Linked DNA regions of Homo sapiens: region 2 is linked to region 1. The links come from fine-mapping of genetic effects on gene expression. A gene starts in region 1. The other region holds a variant in brackets. All regions are shown on one strand. Distances are from middle to middle.

Region 1 (4,000 bases):
GAGATTGTGCCACTGCACTCCAGCCTGGGCAACACAGCGAGACTCTGTCTCAAAAAAATAAATAAAATAAAATAAAATAAAAATTTGTTCAATGAATGACCTAGATTTGTTTACTTGGTATTTACCTGCAAACACCAGGTTGTGGGTACTGGCTAGCAGCTGAGGATAACAACAGTAAGGTGTGGTCCCTGCCCTTAAGGACCTCCTAAGCTAGTAGGAAAGACAATAAACAGATGGAACAATACAGGGTGTTCAGTGTGATCAGATTAGCTTCAGCTCTCAGCTGAATGCCTTAGCTATGTAACCTCGAACATCTCTCCGACGTGAGTTTGTTTCCTCTATGCGTAAAATGGTAATATTAATACTACTTATGTCATAGTATTGGTGTGAGGATTAAGTGATAGTCCATATAAATAAAGCACTTAGCACAGTACCTGGCACAAAATAATCACTCAGTAAATAGCAACTAATAATTTTATTATGATGATGCTATTACAGCTGTATTTGAAATTATCTTTGTCTACCTGTATACCACTTGTCCAAGCCCCACATAGAATTTAAATTCCATGGAAGGGCAGAAATCATATTTGTCTTGTTCACCACTGTATTTCCAGGAATTTGAAACGTCTCTGGTACACAGTAAGTGCTCAACAAACACTAAATGATTAATGAATGCATGCGTACATGCATGGGGTGTTCTGAAACCATTTGTTAAACCACTAATGAATAGCTAAGTTTGGGGACTACTGACATAGAAGAAAAGTGTTTATATTAGAAAGGAGGGGCAGAAGTTTGATGATTTAGCTAAGTAGAAAAAAATTTCACTGAGATTGTAATTAAATCTCCATTAACCATACAAAGATCTGGGTACAATTCCAGGGAAGAACAAACAATTCCAGGTAGAAAAGACTTGAAAGAATAAAATCCAAAGCAGTTTGACCGGTGCCATCAGGCAGGGGGCTCCCAGGGACAGGCTCAATTTGGCAGCCCTATAACCTAGTACACCTATACATATATTAACCACTCAGAACAAATTTCTTCCTCGTTTGTAAAATGGAAATACCATACTTACTTATAAAGCGTCGTCATAAAGTAGAACAACACTTGTATGAATATAAATAAAGCACCTGGTTCATTGCAGCACTGGCTGCATGGTACCAACGCTATTCAAAGCAGGAGAAACTCTGAATAGTCAGTAAGACCAGAAGGGAAGCCAGAGTGTTCTGTCAACTAAAGTGCTCTCGGTGCATCGCGCAGTTTTAACTCTTTTCCCACTCCAGAAGAACCGACGAGAGGAATAGCTGAATGACAACACTGATCCAATCTCCTTGTGTTTAGGGCAGGGGTCAGTAAACTTTTGCTGTAAGGGACCAGACAGAAATATTTCTGGCTTTGTGAGCCAGCCGATCAAAGCCAAGCAACGGCTGCGCAACTACTCAGCTCTGCCCTCTTGGCAGGAAAGCAGCCATAGACAATACATCAACAATGAACAGGGCCGTGTTCCAATAAAACTTCATTTATGGACTTGATTTCATAGAACTTTCGCAAATTACATGAAATATTCTTCCCCCTAACCATTTGCAACTGTAAACAAAGACCGAGAGGGGAAGAGAGAAGGGGGGCATGGATTAGGCCCAAGGCCATAGTCCGCTGACGCCCGGCGAAGGGACCTGAAGGGAGGGGGAGTGAGACAGCGACAAGAGGCCTCCGGACGGGCCGAGAGGGAGGTGCGGGGCGACAGCGAGCCCCAGGCGGTGTCAGGTCGGGCCTGGCGCCCTGAGTGGGTCCCCGCGGTCTCTCCCCTCCGCAGTCTACAGCAGAGCCGGCGCCAGGGGTGCGGACCGCCCCTGGAGGGGGCACGTCCGGGGTGTAGGTGAGGCGGCCGTGATTCGGCCGAGTCCCGCGGAGTTCGCCACGCGGAAGGGTCTGTATACACCCCTCATTTAGGGCGCACCCGGGCCCCCGCTGCAGGAAGGGTCTCCACGCGGAGTCCCAGCCCCGTTTCTATGGTTACCTGTTCAGCACCGATTCAAACTGCCGTTCTTTATTGACAGCGCCATAGAGGACACGAACACTCCTGCCCGAAGGGAACAATAAAGCTTTCGCCATTCAACAGCGCCGGAGACGCCAGAAGGCGGCCATCTTGAGGCCGGCGCGCAATGGGTATCAGAGGGGAGGGGGCGGCCCGACCTGCCCCACGCGCCGCGGTCACGTGCTGGGGGCGGGGCCTGCGTCACGCGCTCGCTCTCCACCTATGCTAGGACGGCGGGGGCCGGCTGGTTGCTAGGCTCTTCTCTGACCTCTGACCTTGGCCACTCCCTCCTTCCCTCCCCACACTTCCTAAGTAAAGTTTTTTTCTTTTTTTTTTTTTTGAGATGGGAGATTCGCTCTTGTTTCCCAGGCTGGAGTGTAGCGGCGCGATCTCGCCCCACTGCAGCCTCCGCCTTCCAGGTTCAAGCGATTCTCCTGCCTCAGCCTCCCGAGTAGCTGGGATTACAGGCGCGCGCCACCACGCCCTGCTAATTTTTTTTTTCTCTTCTATTTTTAGTAGAGACAGGATGTCACCATGTTGGCCAGGCTGGTCCCGAACTCCTGAGCCCAGATGATCCACCTGCCTCGGCCTCCCACCATGCCCGGCCCTAAGGAAAGTTCTAATGGAGCTCCGCAGTCTCGCTCCGGCAGCTCTAGGATTAGGATTTTGTTTCAAAGGAGGGCAAGGAAGTGAACACAAAAGGCTTCGTTTTTCCAAAACAACACATTCACGTGCGAGGCGGAGAGGCGACCTGAGCCGCGTCCCCAGCCCGCACTCTTTGTGGGACAGGCTTGGCGCTGGTGGGGCGCAGTGGGCTGAAGGCATCCTGGAGGCATCCTGATCCTGCCTCTCGCACCTCCCAATTTTGGGATTTAGGGGCTTTGGGATTTAGTCCTAGCTTTTCTTTTGCTCATTTTCCTTCTCACACACTATGCGTTCCCTGTTGAAGCGTCCCCTTGCCACCCTTCCTTACACAAACATTTAAATCAGATCCAGCAGTAACAAACTGAGTCACCTCCGCGCTGGCCCACTGAACACAGTCACCCTGTCACTGACATGCAGCCACTTTTTCTGTCCCTGACAGTTACGTGCCCAAATCCAGCCATCTTAGTGCAATGTCCAGCTTCCTCTGTGGTTATACCTTTTCCATCTGCAATGTCAATATTCAGTCGTTCTGAGAGCTGTCTCTGGCTGACTGACTCACCCCATCACCGTTTTACATCACAAATTCAATCTACTGGGCAGAACTGTCACTTGCATTGTTGCTGTCTCCCGGTCGATCATATTTACTGTCACTGTCTGACATGCAGCTACCGTCATTGACCATAAACTTCAAACGGTTCTGTTCAAAATAGCACTTTGTTTGCCCAGCTGTTGCCCTTTCTGTTGTTTTCACTGTCATTGTCATGCAGCCACTTTTGCTGCCACACAGTCAAGCCAGTATTTAACAGGCCCCTTCAGGGTACACTGTTGTCCTCATACCCTTGTGCCCAGTTAGTCACTTTCACTATTATACTCATGTCACCGTTACATTCAGGGTCGGATTTACTGTAGCTGTTATTTAGTCACTTTTGTAGTAACTGGAACCACGCCTACAGCTGTTGTGTCTCCTAAGCCCTCATTTCCACCAGCCTCACATTCTCTTTTAGTGGGAACATAGGGTTGCTAGATTTAGCAAACAAACACCTAGAAGGGTGCTTGGCACATAGTAGGTGCTCTAGAAATATTTATCGAGTTAATGGGATTACAGGTGTGAGCCACTGGGCATTTTGGGAGCATTTTGGGAGGCCGAGGCAGGCGGATCACCTGAGGTCAGGAGTTCGAGACCAGCCTGGCCAACATGGTGAAACCCCCGTCTCTACTAAAAATAGAAAAATTACCTGGGCATGGTGGCAGGTGCCTGTAATCCCAGTTACTCAGGATGCTGAGGCAGGAGAATCGCTTGAACCTGGGAGGCGGAGGTTGGAG
Region 2 (4,540 bases), 32 kb before region 1:
CCCCTGCACCCTACTACCACATCACTAAAGGCCTAGCTATAGCAGTTCCTTTTATGCAGTACATCATGTCCACCTTTCAACAAAAAATTACAAGGCATACTAAAAGACAAACAAACAGACAAAACCCAAAAACAGTTTGGAGAGACAGAGCAAACTTCAAAACCAGACTCAGATATAGCAAGAATGTCCGAATTAGCACACCAGGATTTTTTTTTTTTAAGACTATGATTAAATAGCCAGGGGCTTTAATGGAAAAAGTACAAAACATGTAAGAATAGATGGATAATGTAAGCAGAGAAATGGAAATTCTAAGAAAGAATCAAAAAGAAATGCTAGAGATAAAAAACACCATAACAGAAATGAAGACTGCCTTTGATGAGCTCATTAGTAGACTGGACACGACTGAGGAAAGAATCTCCTAGCTTGAAGACGTAACAATCCAAAACGAAAAAGCAAAGTAAAAAAAGAAGAAGAAAACAGAACAGAATATCTAACAGTGGGAAGACTAGAAAAGAAATAACTAATGCAAAATGGGGACACCAGAAGGGGAAGAGAGAAAAGCAGCAATATTTGATGCAATAATGACTGAGAATTTCCCCAAATTAATGACAGACACCACATCACAGATCCAGGAAACTCAAGACATTGAGCCTAGGCATATAGTTTTCAAATGTCAGAAAATCAAAGATGGCCATGGTAACAAAGAAAAAAAAATAGACAATACAATTTATTAATATCAGTATCACTGTATACCCCATATACATTAAAAATATAAGGTAATTTATGAATGTCCACAAATATAACCTAAATAAAATGATCCAATTCCTTGAACGATGCAATCTGTCAAAACTCACACACGCAGCAATAGACTATCTGAATAGGCCTATATCTATTAAAGTAGGTGAATCAACAATAACCTCCCCAAAGTGGAAGCAACAGCCCCAGATGTGTTCACTAATGAGTTCCACCCAATATTTAAGAAAGAAATTATACCAATTCTCTACAAACTCTTCCAGAAGATAGAAGCAGAGGGAATATTTCCCAACTCATTCTTTGAGGCCAACATTAACCCTCTACCAAAACCACACAGAGACATTACAAGAAAAGAAAACCACAGACCAGTATCTCTCGTTAAGATAGATGCAAAAATCCTCAACAAAATATTAGCAACTTGACTCTAACAATGCCTAAAGAGAATTATACATCATAGCCAAATGGGACTTCTCACAGGTATGCAAGGCTGGTTCAACATTCAAAATCAATTAATGTGATCCATCGCATCAACAGGCTAAAGAAGAAAAATCATGTGAACATGTCAACAGAAAGCTGCAGAAAAAGCATCTGGCAGAAATCCAATGCCCATTCATGATAAAAACTCCAACAAACTAGAAATAGAGGGGAACTGCCTCAACTTCATAAAGAACATCTACAAAAAACCTACAGCTGGCATCACTCATAATGGTGAGAAACTCAAAGTCTTCCTGCTGGGATTATAAACAAGGCTGGGATATCCCAGTTCACCACTGATCTTAAACACTGTACTGGAAGTCCTAGCTAATGCAACAAGACAAGAAAAGGAAATAGAAGGTATACTGATTGGGAAGGAAGTTAAAACTGTCTTTGTTTGCAGACTACATGATTGTCTTTACAGAAAATTAAAGAGAAATGACAAAAAACCTCCTGGAACTAATAAGAGATTATAACAAAGTTGTAAGACATAAGGTTAATATACAAAAGCCAATTGTTTTCCTATATACCAGCAATAAGGTAGAATTTGAAATTAAAAACTTTACCATTTACACTAGCACCCCAAAAAGAGAAATACTTAGGTATAAATCTAACAAAATATGTACAAGATCTATATGAAGAAAACAACAAAACTCTGATGAAAGATATCAAAGAACTTTAAAAATGGAGAGATATCCCATGTTGTTAGATAGAAATATTCAATATTTTCAGAGACTCAGATCTTCCCCATGACCAAAATAGCTAACTCAATATTGAAGGAGAAGACTGAAGTTGGAGGACTGATAATGACTTCAACATTTACTATTTTAAAGCTACAATAATGAAGACAATGTGGTATTGGTGAAAGAATAGACAAGTAGACCAGTGGAACAGAACAGAAAGCCCAGAAACAGACCCACACAAATATAGTCAATTCATCTTTGACAAAGGAGCAAAGGCACTAAAATGAAGCAAAGAGTATCTTTTCAACAAGTGATGCTGGAACCAACTGGACATTCACATACGAAAAAATGAATCTAGACATAGACCTTACACCCTTCACAAAAATTAACTTAAAATACATCAGAGACCTATATGTAAAATACAAAATTATAATTCCTAGAAGTTAACATAGGAGAAAACTTAGTTGACTTTGGCTATGGCAGTCTTTTTAGGTACAACACCAAAGGCACAATCCATGACAGAAATAAATTTTGCTCCATGAAAGACAATGTCAAAAGAATGAAAAGACAAGCCACAGACTGGGAGAAAATATTTGCAAAAAACACACCTGATAAAAGACTATTATCCAAAATACACAAAGAACTCTCAAAACTCAACAATAAGAAAACAACCCAATTAAAAAATAGCAGAAGACCTGAACAGACACCTCATCAAAGAAGATATGCAGATGACAAATAAGCAAATGAAAAGATGTTGTACATGGTATGTCTTTAGAGAATTGCAAATTAAAACAAGATACCATCACACACCTATCAGAATGACCAAAATCCAAAACACAGGGAATACTAAATGCTGACGAGGATGTAGAGAAACAGGAACTTTCATTCAATGCCGGTGGGAATGCAAAATAGTACAGACATTCTACAGATTAACAGTTTCTTACAAAACCAAACATACTCTTGCCACATGATCT[A/G]GTAATCACATTCCTTGGTAATTAACCAAAGGGGTTGAAGACTTATGGCCACACAAAAGCCTACACATGATACTTATAAAGCAGCTTTATTCATAATTGCCAAAATTTGGAAGCAACCAAGAAGTAGATATAATGAATAAACTGTGGTACATCCAGACAATGGACTAAAAAGTGCTAAAAAGATATGAGACATAAAGCCATGAAAAGACAGGGAGGAAACTTAAATGCATATTTCTTTTTTTTTTTTTTTGAGACGGAGTCCTGCTCTGTCGCCCGGGCTGGAGTGCAGTGGCGTGATCTCGGCTCACTGCAAGCTCTGCCTCCCGGGTTCACACCATTCTCCTGCCTCAGCCTCCCGAGTAGCTAGGACTACAGGCGCCCGCCACCACGCCTGGCTAATTTTTTTGTATTTTTAGTAGAGACCGGGTTTCACTGTGTTAGCCAGGATGGTCTCGATCTCCTGACCTCGTGATCCACCTGCCTCGGCCTCCCAAAGTGCTGGGATTACAGATTACAGGCGTGAGCCACCGCACCCGGCCTTAAATGCATATTTCTAAGTGAAAGAAGTCAATCTGAAAATGCTACATACTTTATAATTCCAAATATATGACGTTCTGGAAAAGGTAAATATATAGATAGTAAAAAAGACCAGTGATCGCCAGGGGTTAGAGGAGAGGGAGGGATGAATAAGCAAAGCACAGAGGATTTTTAGGGCAGTGAAATTATTCTTCATGAATCTACAATGGCAAATATAAGTCATTATACATTTGTCAAAACCCACAGAATGCACAACACCAACAGTGAACCCTGATGTAAACTATGGACTCCGGGTAAGAATTATGTGTCAATGTAGGTTCATCAATTATAAGAAATGTACCAATATGGTGTGAGACATGGATGGTGGGACAGGTTGTGCATGTGTGGAGAATGGGAGTGGGGAGGGATCTGCAAACCCTCTGTAATTTCCGCTTAATTTTGCATGTACCTCAAACTGCTCTAAAAAAATAGTTTATTAATTAAAATAAAGATTTGCTGAAATAAATATAAATGTTTCAGTTCTAACTACCCCAAGCCCCTTCTATACCATGTACCTAATATTGTTGGGCATTCATGAATTCATATGATTGTTTTCAGCTTGCTCAAAGAAAATCTTTAAGAATGTCTACCCCTACTTTTTGAATACAGTCTGTTTTAATCTATATTATAAAAATGCACATATATTTTTAAACAAATGAAGAACAGTCCTAGGAGGTAAGTGGCTTTTATCTAATAGAAGTAGCTCTAGTAGGCGACTGGAATTTTTATCTCTTGGTGTTTTATGGAAAGAGGAGGGGAAAATTCCATAAGATTTAAAACTAGAAAAACATTTTTTTCTAGTTTTAATATTTAAATAAATATTTAAATTAATATTTGAGAAAAATCTGAACAAGAATTCAATTTGCAAATAACAAAAGACCATAAACAGGCACTGATGAGGTTTTTCTAAGAAACAAATTACACCAATGTAATGTGATTTTTTTTTTTTTTTTTTTTTTTTTTTTGGTAAAACAAGACATAAGTCTTACGGATTACAGTAAACCAAAAGACTTACCTGGACATACATTAGATCTTTTTAAACATTCTTATTAGTAAGAAACAAGTGACTGGAATTATATT

Direction of the effects. Positions count from the first base shown, and alleles are read on the strand shown. Sizes are in standard deviations (SD) of each study's normalised expression.
For the expression in lymphoblastoid cells of the gene that starts at base 2,168 in region 1, A is the high allele of the variant in region 2 and G is the other (small effect, 0.24 SD a copy in GTEx).

Evidence for each region. PIP is the estimated chance that this variant, and not a neighbour inherited with it, causes the effect.
Region 2: its variant is the best candidate, but not a certain one, in a credible set for the expression of ZBTB40 in lymphoblastoid cells (GTEx, PIP 0.54).

The regions. Positions count from the first base shown.
Region 1 is chr1:22,450,019-22,454,018 of GRCh38, reverse strand. It overlaps ZBTB40 (zinc finger and BTB domain containing 40), which reads right to left and starts at 2,168. Exons shown (of 18, transcript NM_014870.4): 1 at 2,015-2,168. RefSeq lists silencers at 1,685-1,774, 2,115-2,314, 2,629-2,923 and enhancers at 1,885-1,964, 1,678-2,239.
Region 2 is chr1:22,481,673-22,486,212 of GRCh38, reverse strand. The region is part of intron 1 of ZBTB40 (zinc finger and BTB domain containing 40); the gene reads right to left. Among named protein-coding and RNA genes, the nearest start is that of ZBTB40, 32 kb to the right of the region's middle. The variant A/G (reference allele first, on the strand shown) is at 2,885.